Linked DNA regions of Homo sapiens. Each later gene encodes a partner of the first gene's protein in a complex. Each region holds a gene or a part of one and is shown in the gene's direction. Other genes may lie near its edges.

Region 1 (7,023 bases):
CCCGAGCACCTGACCTTGGAATATTAGTTGCAGTTTGGAATATTGTATTTCTTCTGCGCTAATTGTGTTTTATTTCTTTTAAGTCCTTAGAAAATATAAGCAAATGTAAGTTTTTTCTGTTCTCTGTTCTCTTTTTCCAAAGGGATTTTGCTGTAGGAATCTGTAACAAAATCAGTGAAATGATTCAAGGTATGTATTCTTCATTTAGTATTATGAAGTGACTTAATTAGATTTATAATAGTTGCTAACACTAATTAAGTACTTATTATTTGCTAGTCACCATACATTCAAATAATATTTATTAAGTATCTTCTATTTGCCCAAACTGTTCTAAATGCTGAGGATACAGGAATGAGCAAAACAAAGTCCTTACCCCCATCTAACCTACACTCTAGTCAGGGGTGGGGTGTGTGGGGATAGACAAATGTGCCTATGACATTTCTGGTGCTATGGTGAAAAAGTGAGAGAAGAAGGATAGAGAGTCTCAAAAGTAAGTCGTTGGTGGGTTGAGAGAAGGGACTTATCTATTTTATATATATTGATCAGAGAAGGGACTTTTTTGTATATATTGATCAGAGACAGTCTCTGATGAGGTGATACTTGAGTGAGACATGAAGGAGAGAAAGGAGTGAGCCATGCAGATATAGTCTTGCATTGCTTAACAATGGGGATCCTGTGTGAGAAATGGGTCCTTAGGCAGTTTTGTTGTTTGAACTTCATAGAGTGTACTTAAATAAACCTAAATGGTATAGCCAACTGTACACTTAGGCTGTATGGTATAGCCTATTGTTCCTAGGCTCTAAGCCTATACAACATGTAACTGTGCTGAATACCCATAGGCAATTGTAACAAAATGATTTGTATATCTGAGGTAGAAAAGGTAATATATTGCACTGTGGTGTTACAATGACTACAGGGTCTATGAAGTTACTAGGAATTTTTCAGCTCCATTATAATCGTATGGGACCACCGTCTGTCATGTGGTCCATCATTCACCAAAGCATACTTATGGGGGGCATGATTAGTGTAGGGAAGACTGCTCTGTGTGAGAGAGGCTAATATTATTAGGAGCTCTGGAACTCTCTGCTAATGTCCCTCCAGTGTCTTCCAGTTGCATTTAGAATCAAATCCAGATTCCTTACCATAGACTACAAAGCCCTGGTTTTCCAGTCTCTTATACCATAAGTCATGTGTATTAACCCTATTTATCCTTACAACAGTCATTATGGGAGCCCAAGAGCTCCCATAGGGTTAATACACGTGTCATACCCCTATTTATCCTAGCAGTCATAAAAGGGAGCTCTTGGGCTACAGCATTGCCTGACTCTAGAGAACACCACTTTGTTTATATTCTTATAAAGAGCATTCCTTTGAATTGTGCAATGTGGCAGCCTTGGATAGGTAATACCATTATGTTCGTTTTACAGGAAAGGAAATAGAGCCACACTAAAGCTGAATGATTGGTTCACAGTAAAAAAGCTGATAACTTACAGTTTGGCTTTGAGGCCGATGCTTTTAACCACTTATGCTACTGTGCCCTTCTAAGGCATGAATTGCTTAGTGTAGTTATATTTTGCACGCATTTAAATTGTCCTTCAAATTAAAATTAAAGAGAACTTGCTCACTTGCATAAATAATAAAAATCACTTAAAGACCAAGATACAGTGAATGAGCTTTGTTGTGTTCCCCTTTATTCCTTTGTGTTTTTTCTTCCACCATTAGCAAAAGGGCTTTCCTGCAGAAAAGTATCCTTATGACATTAGAAGGAAGCATCACTTATTCATTGAGCAGATTTTATCAGTGCCTGCTGCATCAGACAAGATCTCAGCAGGAAACAGGTGGCACATTTGAATTAAGATAACTCAAGGAAGGTGTAATAAAGGAACCATTCACAAAGGCATGGTCAGGGTGTACTATAGGGGATAATGTAGTTCTTGAACCCGTAATAGCTTTTACCATACCTCTAAGGGTACAGGTTAAAGAGAGGTTACTAGAAAATTGGTATCATGTCAGGAGGACCACTTTGAGAAGCTAACCTCCAGGAGCATGATGTGACCCTGCAGTGAGAGAACCAGGGAATAAATACTCTGACCTCATTCTTCTCTGCAACTCCTGCTGGGCTCTCCATTGGTTAAACCCAAACAAAGGGTAGATAGCAAGGGAGTTGATGAAAGCTATACAGGTGAGCCTTCTAGGATGCTGGAGTATTCTGTGTATCTGATGACAGTTATATGAGAATATACATATGTAGAAATACATTAATCTGTACACTTAAGATTCATTACCTTATTGTTCCTTAAATTTTATCTTAAAAAAATCTGAAAGAACAGGAATTAGCAGGAGAGAGAGGCAGAGGAAAACATAGGAGTGTGGGTGGAGGAAAATTGGAACCTAAGATATGGAAATGAAAGAGGAGTTTTAGGAACAGAATCCTGACATTTGGTTTTAAGCCACTTTTGTTTCTGCCAAGTAAAATCTCCGAGCCTCCCTAAATCTTTAGTAAAGATGCCTGTAAACACAAAGATCCCTCTGAGTACTGGGTTGAGAATAAACTTGCAGTGGAGGAAAGAGGGGGATATAAGAGTGGAGTCTGCCATGGGGAAAGGCCTAAGCAGGGAGAATACTTAGGAGACTTGCAATAATTTAGTCAAGAGATGGTAGTGGAAATGGATCGGCATGGTAACAACGGAGGTAGAAAGAGTCAGTTTGGGTTTTATTTTGAAGTTAGAACCAATAAGATTTGCTAATACATTTGGAAATGGGATGTGATAGAATCCTTTCACTAATAAGAAAGACTCCAGGGTCTAAGAAGCTATAATGATGTGATTTACTGAGACAGGAATATTTTTGGAGGGGCAGTTTCAAGGTTAAGATCAGTTCTCTTTGAGCCTTATTAATACAAAATGCTTCTGAGACCTCCTAGTGCAGATGACCAGAAGATAATGAGATACATGCGTCTGACGTCGGGGCAGGAGGACGGATGGGTGGCAGCCTTTCACATTTAGCCGATAATGGAAACCATGGGATTATATCAGCTCACTCAGGGAAAACACATAGAATGAGAAGAGAATTTATTACCAACCTATGGGAATATCAGAAATTAAAGCGTAGACAGACAAGGAGACTACAAAGGAGATTAAGAAGGAACAGCCAGAGAAAGAGGTCAGAAAACAGTAAAAGTGGAAGAGCCAAAGCCATTAGGAGTGAGTTTCAAAGATAGAATGGTCAGCAGTGTCAAGTGCATTCAGAACCTTAAGGAACAAAGTAATAACATGAGCATGATGTGACCCTGCAGAGAGGAAAGCAGGGAATACTCTGATCTCATTCTTTTCCCTCTGGCAAACCCAAGTAGAGGCCATCTAGCAAGGGAGTTTATTGACGTAGGCAACTGTTGGACGTTGAAATGCTGTCTTACGTTCATACCCACAATTATTTCACCATGGAAAAGCCAGCAATACGCAGAGTATAATTAGCTTGTGGCATGTATGTGGTACATTACGACTGAGAAATTTGTGTTCACCATGACCACAAAGCCATGCCATAGAGAAAAGATTTGTTGGTTTCGCTCCACTGTTGACAGGAAAACGTGGATTAGGGTTAGTCTTCATGGATCCAGTCGTGTATGCAATAAAGAAAGGCATTTACTACACAAAGTTCAGAGGACTTCGAAACCATTCTACACACAGTTTATTCACATCCTGATTATGATTTAGTTGTTGAAGGAAATAATTAAAATCATAAGTATAATCAGACTGTAGCCATCAAGTGTGTGTGTTTGTGTATATATATGTATATGTGTATGTATAATTTTTTTACTATGACAATGAGAGGAAATAGGCAGCAAATATGACTTTGCTTTCTACTGTGCTTTTTAAAGGCAGTTTTTATTATCAGCATGTAGTTTTATAATCATTGAAAAGTTAATGTCAAGATAAATACTTAGGAAAAAATATTGAATTTATCAATTGGTTCTAGTATAATCTTTAATGTTATAAATATATTAGTATACTGTGTTTTTCAAGTGCAATTTTGCTAAATGAGTCACAGCTTTTAAATCTGGAATATTATTAAGGATGGTGATCACAAATACCTTGAGAATTATTTTTGTGTCTAGGTTTAGCGACACCAGTAGACTTGAAGCTAAAATTGATACCCATTCTACAGCACATGCACCATGATGCAATCTTGGCTTCCAGTGCTCGTCAGCTTTTACAACAGCTGGTCACATCCTATCCGTCCACCAAAATGGTGATTGTGTCTTTGCACACTTTCACTCTGCTTGCAGCGTCATCTTTGGTTGATACACCTAAGCAGGTAATTTCAATTTTCTTTAAACTGCCTATCTTTGGTAAACTTACATATTAAATATATGATTAGAAATAAGAAAGTGGCCCACAAGTCTTGAGGACATTAAGGTTCTTTTCTCTAATAAAGGTCAGATTAATTTGCTTTTGCTTGCTTTTTTATTCTCTCTGTTCACAGTACTGATTGTTGGGAGCCCTTGAGGAAAATGAGATGTTATGGAGTACATGGCTGGGTGTGAAGTTGGCCGTATAAAAAAAAAAAAAGAAAGGATTGAGTATCTGTAAAATGCCAGGGCCTGTGCTAAAACTTTAAAGTTAAATGGTAGTATTTTACAAACATGGAGAAAGAGGCCCAAATGTGGGCACATAGCTAGTGAGTGACAGGGCTCTGATTTGAAGTGAGTCCTGTCCCTTTATAAGTTTCACTAAACTACACTGCATTTCTAATGATCATTTCAGTTACAGTATTGTTTATGGAGTGACTTATTTCCTTTATAGATTCAGCTTCTGTTGCAGTATTTGAAGAATGATCCCAGGAAGGCAGTAAAGAGACTTGCTATTCAAGATCTGAAATTACTTGCTAATAAAACACCACATACTTGGAGTAGGGAGAATATTCAGGTATGTAGAACTTGTAACATTTTATATAGAAAAAATAATATAACATTATAATATAGTAAAATGTTTTGCATTTTTATATTGTCTTTGTCATCTTCTAAGTGGTTGAATATGAAAAACTTCTAAAAGCATTGTTGATGTTTGTGGCAGTTATTTTATAAGTGGCACAATAAATACATAAAACTTCTATACTTCAATGTTTGTTTTAGTCAGTGAAACTTGCCACTCAGTTGCTTGTTCATTCTCCCATAGTGGCACTAAGGCTAATTGAGAAGCCCAATTACATTGGTTTGGTTTTTTTATTCTTGTATTTTTCAGTCAATTTGGGGAGAAAAATTTAGGGGCTGAATGTTATCTGTAATGGAGGTAGGGCTGGATGGGCAACTTGGGAAATATATTTCTCTCTTCCTGGAGAGCTGAAGACATTCCTAAGTCTTCTTTTGTAAACAGAAGAGCAGATCTCACTCTTTAGACTTTTAATGTGCATCTTTGACACCATCTCTTACCATCTGTTAGGTTAAATTAATATTTTATGTTTATTTTTTTCTCAAAATAGAACCCTGTTTGTTTACCCATTACCGATAGAAATAACACCATTTTGCAAATAATGCTATTTAAAATGGAACGGTAGTTTTTATCTCTCAGCTTCATCATGACTCCAGTGGATTAAAAATCTTTGAATTTCAGATTATTAAAACTAAACTGCTGTGTTTGTTTTTCTGTTTGTTTGTTTGTTGTTTTCTAAACATCTTTTAATTTACTATATTATGATTTGATAGTCACAGATATCCCAAGATAAGGGCAGTTGTTAAATCTGCATTTAATAGATAAGCAGTTAGGGTTCAGAGAGACTTAATATGCTTAAGAGAGCATCTTAAGAGAAGTAAATTAAGAATTTAATTAAGAGAGCTTCTGTCCTCTGATCCCTAGTCTTATTGCTTTTTCTACTAAATAATGCTATCTTTCCAAGAAGAGAATGTGCCCAGCCACTTTAGTCATTTTAGAGAATTTGTACAAAGAACCAAACCCAGTTATTTAGAAAGATGAGTGAGAAGCACAGTATTATTCCTTCTCATTTTTTTCTTATTGTGAGATAGATCATACATACAGAAAAGTATGTAAAATATATAAATAGTTTAAATACCTTTAAGTGAGAAAAGTATGTAAAATGTATAAATATTTTAAATACTTTTAAGTGAAAACCCATGCAACTACCATCCAGCTAGAAATAGAACATTACAGGATCACAGAACCCTGCCTCCTTCCCTTGCGTGGTCCTTCCTGGTTGAAACTTTACACCTTCCAAAAGCAAACCACCATTTTGACTTTCATGATAATAATTTCTTTGCTCTTCTTTTACCTTCTTCACATGTCTTCCTAAAGAATACTGTTTAGCTTTGTTTTTGTTTCTTTTGCTCAGCATTACACTGGTGAGACTCATCCATGTCTTTCCCCTTTAATTGTAATGTACTATCCCATTGTATGAATGTATCACAGTTTATTTGCTCTCGATGGGTTATTTCCGCATGGGCCTATTGCAAACAGTGCAGAACATTCTTCTGTTTGTCTCCCAGTTCACACACGCAAATTTCTTTAGAGTGTATACCTGGGAATGAAATTTCTGACTTACAGAAAATGCGTATCTTCAGTTTTAACAGATGATGTCAAACTGTTTTCCAAAGTCAATGAACCAGTTTACATTCCTGCTGTGTATGAGGGCGTCCATTAATCACATCCGTACCAACACATAGAATTATCAGACTTACGTTTTTTACCAGTTTAGAAGTTGTACTTTTTATGTGTAGCTCCTTGATTATTAAAGAAATTGAACACCTTTTTAATATGTTTATTGACCATTTGGATTTTCTCTTATGACATGGCTATTCAGGTCTCTTGCCTATTTTTCTGTTGATTCATAGTTATTTTTTATATATTTGGAATACTCATACTTTGTTAGTCCTTGACAATTCTATATAAATTTCAGAATCAGCTTGTCAAATTTAACAGTTTGATTGGGATTACACTGAATATAAAGATTAGTTTGTAAGAAATTGGTAACTTTATAATATTGTCTTCCAGTGCATGAACATGTTATATCTTT
Region 2 (7,476 bases), on another chromosome or scaffold:
GACAACATGTGCTGGTTACTCTTTGGTTTCTAGCTTCAGTCAAAGTTCAAGGTCTTCTGCTATTTGTGGCTCAGATTCTTTCTTATGGGAGGCATGTCTGATAGATATACACCAATTTCATAAATAAATAAATAAACATAAAAGTATTTTATGTATGAGTGTATTGTGGGTGTACATATATGGCACTCTAGACAAGCCATGCTTTTCACTCACAACAATGCTTTAATAAATTACAGTTCTACTACAGTGGGAAGTAAAAGCCAACTGTTAACAGAAAAATCTAGCCAAAGAATAGCAAAGTGAGCTACAAAATTAATTCCAGAAGCCAAAGAACTAAATAAAGCTGGTTCACAAAACAAACAAAACCAACACATTTTCAATGAGCACTATTCGGTTTATCTATAAATGTTCATGTATTTAAAAAGTTGAGTGGTATGCCAACTTTCACTTATGACAACATTCTACATAAATACCTGATTCCCAAGAGAAATAATTCAGGTTTAAAGAGCTGTATACAAAAATAAGAGAAGCAAGAGCTACAATGAAATGAACAGAACTAAATTGCACGGGAGCCCTAAATGTGGGATGTGCTGAATACAGTGTACAGGAGACTCAAAATACACAAATTAAGCCTAAATATTCCCAATGTATTCAATATCTATGAAACAAGCAATAGAATTCCAATCAACACTTGCCACAAAAATTGCCATAAGCTGGTTGCTATTTTTTAAATGATGTAACAATGACAGATTTGTTGCCACATATTTTGTAACTTAGGAACACTGAGCTATTAAGTTTCTATTAGCGATGTTTTAACTGAGGATTTGGGCTAGAAGACTGAAATCTGTTTGTACAGCAGTGAAAACGAAGCCTCACTAAAGGCATTCAACTTCCAGCTAAAGGCTCCTTTCCTTGATGCGTATTTGTGACCATACATAGTGTTCACTAAATGCAGTAAACTAAACTAGCAACAGATTAGTTAAAAGCAGCTTAGATTTTCAACTTCCCATAATACAGGCAACATCTTTAGAAGCAATCACATTAAAATAAATGTGTCTTTCACAGTTACGGGATGAAATTGTAAGCTGGACAAGCACCCATGCCCTGGTTTTCTACTTTATTTGTAAACCATATGACTCTCACATGCTGAGAATGTTTTATGCTTTAACCTGCAGTAAAGGCTTTACATCATTTTAATGCCCAGTACTTAAAATGCAACAGAATCACCCCCAACAAATGCTGGGAATATATTTGGTTTACATGTAATGATTTTGATCCCACTAGTAGCCAGAAAAAGTTTAATGAATGCTTTTTCAAGTAAATAACTTTGCACTTCTATAGACAAAACAAAAAGAAATTTTGAGGTAAGGGTAGATGGAAGAGAAAACACTCGTGTTTTTCCAATTTAAAATATTAACAAACATGTTGGTTTTTTACTTCTAAAATAATTATTAAACATTTTTTAAAAAACTCCATGACTATTATAATATGCTTCAGAAAAATAAAACAAAACACTCCGTTAAGTAGTTACGTAGGATTTTTCTCTGGTTTTTGCAAAGTAGTGTTTCAAGTTAAGATACAAGCTTAAAACAAATGATTCTGAAAATCCTGGTCTATCACAAACTAATGGCTTAGTTTTGAATCAACATATTGTATATTCTACATCTGAGATTTAGAAATCACATTTTTTTTTCTATTCAGGTCAATTGAAATATACATGCTACCTCACTCTTTCAGTCCCCCTTATCTGTGTGAATGACCAACAGCAAAAATTTTAAATCAATGGTTAGAGGACATATCATAAAATTACACACTCTATCAATGTGGTTTTCAGTTATCATAGAATCTAAAGGTCCCTTACTGATGATAGGTGGCAGATTCAAGAATTGATAAGTTTGGGGAATATATTCAATTCTCAACAGTCGAAATAGAAATTATGCCAATTTCTTTACTTTAAAAATCCGTTACACTAAAAAAATTGTCACATAAGGATTATTGAAGAACTTAATAAGGAAGTACAAAATATGACCTTAAATTCTCCTAGTGTGTTATTAAATATTAAAAACTGTGAGAAATAAGAGATGTTGCAATCCTTTCCTTTTTAACTCTAATTGAAATTTGAAAAAAAATTTAGAATTCAAATTTCCCAACTTTGACTTAGAAACATAATTCAGCTAGATCAAGCAACTTAATTGCACAATTTTAAAATAAGTTTAATGCAAAGCACTGCAATCCTGATGTGATAATTACCTGCAGCATAAATGCAAAATAATAAATGCATTTAACGATGCATTTTATGGTAAAACCACAAAAAGCACAACCATATTAGCACAAACTAAATAAAAAGACACAGGCGGTATTATGTCCAACAGAAAGAGAAATGTTGTACGAAGCCAAGAAAGAAAGGAAGGACTTAAGGAAGGAAGGAAGGAGGGAGGATAGGAAGGAAGGAAGAGGGAAGCCAGAGGTTTCTGTACCTGCAGGATACCAGAGAAATGAGCTAGTCACATCACTCTACCTTATATGATACATGGGTGATTTTTTTTAAGCTTCAGCGTAAATAAAAACAGTAATCACTTTATACCATTCAACTTTACATAGTGTTATCTTTAATGCCAACTGCATTCTTCCCTTTACTCACCCAATGCTTCTTCACTGTTCCATTCCACCAGCTTTCAGGCAAATGCAAGACAGAACAGGGTGGAGTAGAAGAAAAATACAAGCAGCGCCTTTCGGCGCACCCCCTCTCCCGCAAATAATTTCCAACAGTTCCTCCTGCTACGAAAATAAGTCGCCCTATCTCCAGATACATAACAGACATTCCGTCTCCTTAGTAGACACACACAGACGCGTACACAATCCAGCACTCCCGACCCCCACCCCAGGCCCCCCGAATCTTCAGCAATTATTCATCTAATTCACACGAAGACAAGATACCTCTACCTACTGTTTCGGGGTGAAGGTGGGTGGAGGACGCCTTTCAAAGTAGCCCCAATAGTGTAACCAAAACACGGTTCCGGAATAAAATATTAAGAAACACTTTTCCTTTCCCACCTATCTACCGACTTGAGGATGCAAAAAATCCATCTCCACATCACACCATCTCTACAGTTCTCGTGGCTGGAGTTTGGGGTGGAGATTCGTCCAGGGGAGGGGGCGGAGGCGAGTGGCAGAGTGTGAGCGGGCGACGGGACACAAGCGAGTTGTTGAGCCCGGCCGCCTCGCACCACGTCGCCAGCCCAAACGCCCAGCACCAGGACCTCACGCCCGCCCCTCAGCCCAGGCCCAGAGCGAGCGAGGACTCGCGCTGTCTAACTTCCCATCTACAGACACCGCTCCAAGACGAGCAGAGCACACAAGTACACGTCACACAGTTTAAACACACTTACACACCCCAAACAAACCAACACACCTGCAAATCACCTCACAGTTTCCAGAACTCCACACCGGAGACCCCACCTCCAGGATTCAAACCTTCCGCTCATCGTAGAGGAAACCAGAAGAGTTGGGGGGCAGTCGACGCCTTTCCAGGACCGGACCCCACGAACTGCCCCACCCCACAGCCCGCGTCTGGGTCACCCACTCGGAAGCCCCCTGCTTCCTCCCTCCTCTCAATCCGGCCGCTTACGAGACCCATCCCCAGCGTCCGCTCACTTCCTCCCCAAAACCCCTCCAAAAAAATTGTTTTAAGTGAAGAGAAAGAAGTGAGGAAAGAGACTTGAGGTAGTCCGGCTTCAAAACCGCTCGACTCACCTCAGAATCCTCGCTGAGTTCTCTCCGCCCGGCACAGCCCCCTCCCCAACGTCCCAGTACGAAGGGCTGAGATAGGGAGGAGGGAAGGCGGGAGGGGGAGGGGTGTCTTCCGCGTGGGGCGCCCGTCGGGAGGGGACTGGGGAGGGGTTGAGGCCGGCGCAGGAAGAGGAGAAGGGGGAGGGGAGGCCCCTATCTCCCAGTCTCCCCCTGAAAAACCTCCCTTGTCTCAATCACATCAGACTGACTGTCTTTGTCTGGCTGACAACCGCCATATTGATATCAACAGCCCCTCTCCCACCTGCTGCCGCCGGGCGTCCCTGGGAGTTGTAGTTCCTGCCTCCCCTGAGAAAAATTGCGGAGCCCGGCGCCTAGAGGGCCAAGGGAACTACAACTTCCGGCAAGCCCCGTGCCCATCCGCCTTCCCTTTGGGAGGAGGGAAAGGGGAGTCGGAGCCGTCGGGACTACACATCCCAGAACACCATGGGCCCCAGGCCCGTAAGGAAGACATGATATCATGCTGGGGTGGAGAGGGAGGATGCATTGGCGGCTGGGATGAATTTGAGCTGACGGAAGGAGGCGTTCGGAGAGGAAAGGGAGGAAAAGGAAAGGCGACCACAGTTCCCATGATGCCTGGAGGGGAGACTACATTTCCCATTATTCCCCTGGAAGGGACGTGAGGATGAAAGACTGCAAGTCCCGCGATGCTCTCGGCTGGCAGGTGGCGGAGATTGCACCGGAAGACGCTTCCTGGGTTTGAGGAGTTCAGTGACTGCTATTGAACCACCAAAAGTCCATTATGAAACTGGTGAGTCTTCGCTCCTAGGTCAGAGGGCAAAGGTGATGCTATAACCTTTTGGACCTCTTTTTTTCCTACGTTGGGCAGGGAATCGTCGCACGGGAGGGGTAGCAATTATTGAGCTGGAAAGTGGAGTGGGCTAAGGAAAGCTGCTTTTTGTTGTTGAGAAGGTTTGAATTCCCTCTCCCCCACCCCATCCCTCCCAGGAGGTCTTTTTTCACTCGTTAGTGGGTCTTTTTGTTCAGACAAGAGGTTGACTGTCACAGTCCTTCGCCCATGAACTCTGTGGGCTCTGTTAACCAGGTTTGGACGTCCTGGTTCCCACGTGAGGGTTATAATAGGCTGTTAACAATCCGTTTCCATTCGATTGGCGCTTGAGTATCCTGTCTCCCTACTGTTGTTGAGACTGGCTAGATTTAAGCAGACAGTAAAAAACATCCAGCAGAACGTAATCACTTATTAAATATCCTGTTATATAGACTCCTCACTGCCCTTGGAATTCAGGACGAGGTCAGAGTGTGGAGAAGTTGAGTCTTAAACCCTGCATGGGATTTAGATGGGCAGAGAAGTGTTATATGGTATTCCATTCTAAGACTGTAGGGACTTCATGAGCCAAGGCTGAATGAAGCGTGCTCGGTATACCTGAAGTCTTAACATCACACAGCTCAAGCACCTGGTTCATGGAGGCTCCTCAGACCTTTGATTTGAGCCATTTGACTCATTGTGCACACAAGTCTAACTAGTTTATTCCAACTCGATTCAATTAGTTAATAACATAGTGTAGAAAGGCAGGTGTGAAACACTGTTTCTCAACCTTTTAAAACCCATATTTGTGCAGCCAAGTTATTGTCAAGCTTTACTTGAGGCAGGAGAATCGCTTGAACCCGGGAGGCAGAGGTTGCAGTAAGCCAAGATCGCGCCACTGCACTCCAGCCTTGCAACAGCGCGAGACTCTGTCTCAAAAAAAAAAAAAGTTTATTTTTTACCATTTATATAATTATCTGAACATGCTTTGCCAAACCACACAACACACCTACCCTCATCTTGATAATCATTGTGCTACAGGCATATATTCTGCAAAGCCAGCTGTTTTCTGCGAAGTCAGAGAAAGTATTAAAAGTGGATTCAATTCCGAAATTGTCCCCGTATAAATCTGTTTATATAAGGGGAAGGATGCGGGTCACTAAACCTTGAGAATAGCAACTTACCCCTGGGTCAGTGTGTTACACATTTAATAATGCAGAATTAAAAGTCATAGCCGTTGCCCTACAGAAGCATGCAACCTAAGAAGAAGATAGAAAAGTAAACCAAAGTTATTATTTATTTATTTAGAGACAGGGTCTGGCTTTGTGGGGCCCAGACTGAAGTGCAGTGGCGCGTTCTCAGCTCGCTGCTACCTCCACCTTTCGGACTCAAGCGATCCTCTCGCCGCGTCAGTCTCCCCATATAGCTGGGAATACAGGCGCGCACCACTGCACCCTGCTTATTTTTTTTGTAGAAATGGGGTTTAACCATGTTGCCCAGGCTGGTCTCAAACTCCTGGGTTCAAGGTATCTGCCCACCTCAACCTTCCAAAGTGCTGGAATTACAGGCATGAGCCACCATGCCTGGTCCGAAATTATAATTCACTGTGTTCATGGTGAAATAGAGGCGTGTTCAGGGTTTTGGGAATTCAGAGAACAGAGGATTGGGGAGGTCAGGGGACAGCTTCCTGGAAACGTGACTCTTGAACTGATAAGGATAAGTAAGCCAGGGCCTTCCATGAAAGAGGTCAGCTTATAGGAGCATAAGAGCTTGGTACCTTATTGGCTAAAGCATGGACCCTGTGTTCTCAATAAAGAGCAAATTATATTTAATGTGTTCAGTTTAAGAAGGCAGGGAAGTGTGAAATAGTTTTTCCCATAACAACTCATTAGTGAGGGTATCAAAAAGCCAGGGTTTACTTTACATATATTTTAGTTTGCTCATAAAATCCTCCTGCTTAATTTATTTAGAAATATGAAACCGGGGATTGTAAAAAAGTGGAAAATTATTTTTTCCATTAAGAACCAAAGATGTCTCAGAGGAAAAGGAAGTATTCTATTGATACTCATACTCCCTCTTTACTTTGCAACTATGTATTACATACTAAAATTTATTTGGTAGTTGATAGATAAATGTAATTGAGAATTCCCATCAACATACCAAAAGCATTGTTGCTCAGTAAGTTAGATGGGTGTGTCATGCCTCCCAAATGGTTGGAATAAGTCCTCCCATGGCCTAAAAGTTTTAATTTTGTGTACTGCTTCAGAAATATGTAATAGGCTGTGTTTTAAATTTATAATTATGAAACAAAAACACATTTTGTTTAGCATTTTCTCATTTTTGAGATTCACTTTCCAGAGTACCCTTCCCACACACAATCTATGACCACCTCTTATTGATTCTGCTTCCTAAATGCAGCTTTCTTAAATAGGTTCTATTTCTCTCCAGTCCAACTAGAATACTGTCTTTGTAATCGGAATTCAACAAGACCCCTTATCTGGTCTCTCTGCATTCAGTCTTAACCCTCTCAAATTCATTCTTTCCTCTGCATCCGGAAGTTGTTTTAATTGCAGAGTTCCATGAAACCCTCTCAGTATCTTCCTTTGCCCTTAGGATAACCTCCTACACTTAACTTGGTTGAATATGTTCCATTGCCTGCCTCACTCTTTTTTGCCTGGCTAATTTCTTCATATATTTCAGATCTCTGTCTAAATAACACTTCTTCAGGGCCTCGTTGAATTAAGTACCCCTGTTATATATTTGATGGCATACTTCCTATTTGTAGCACTTGTAATTATTGGCGTGTGTCTGTCCTCCCCCATGTAGATTCTGTGTAAATAATTGGTAAATAATTTCTGAAGGTTTATCAAGGTCTATGGATACCCTTGAGAAAAGATTAAAGA

What was found. The genes of interacting proteins can lie anywhere in the genome.
Region 2: INTS7 (region 1) and INTS9 share a complex: the UniProt entries of both Homo sapiens proteins name them as parts of the integrator complex.

Annotation. Positions count from the first base shown.
Region 1 is NC_000001.11:212,004,541-212,011,563, reverse strand, and holds part of INTS7 (integrator complex subunit 7), read left to right. Parts: intron 1-142; coding exon 143-189; intron 190-4,114; coding exon 4,115-4,314; intron 4,315-4,802; coding exon 4,803-4,925; intron 4,926-7,023. UniProt on the Homo sapiens protein: Component of the integrator complex, a multiprotein complex that terminates RNA polymerase II (Pol II) transcription in the promoter-proximal region of genes.
Region 2 is NC_000008.11:28,886,956-28,894,431, reverse strand, and holds the start of INTS9 (integrator complex subunit 9), read left to right. Parts: upstream 1-4,462; 5' UTR 4,463-4,549; coding exon 4,550-4,558; exon of another isoform or gene 4,559-4,590; intron 4,591-7,476. UniProt on the Homo sapiens protein: Component of the integrator complex, a multiprotein complex that terminates RNA polymerase II (Pol II) transcription in the promoter-proximal region of genes.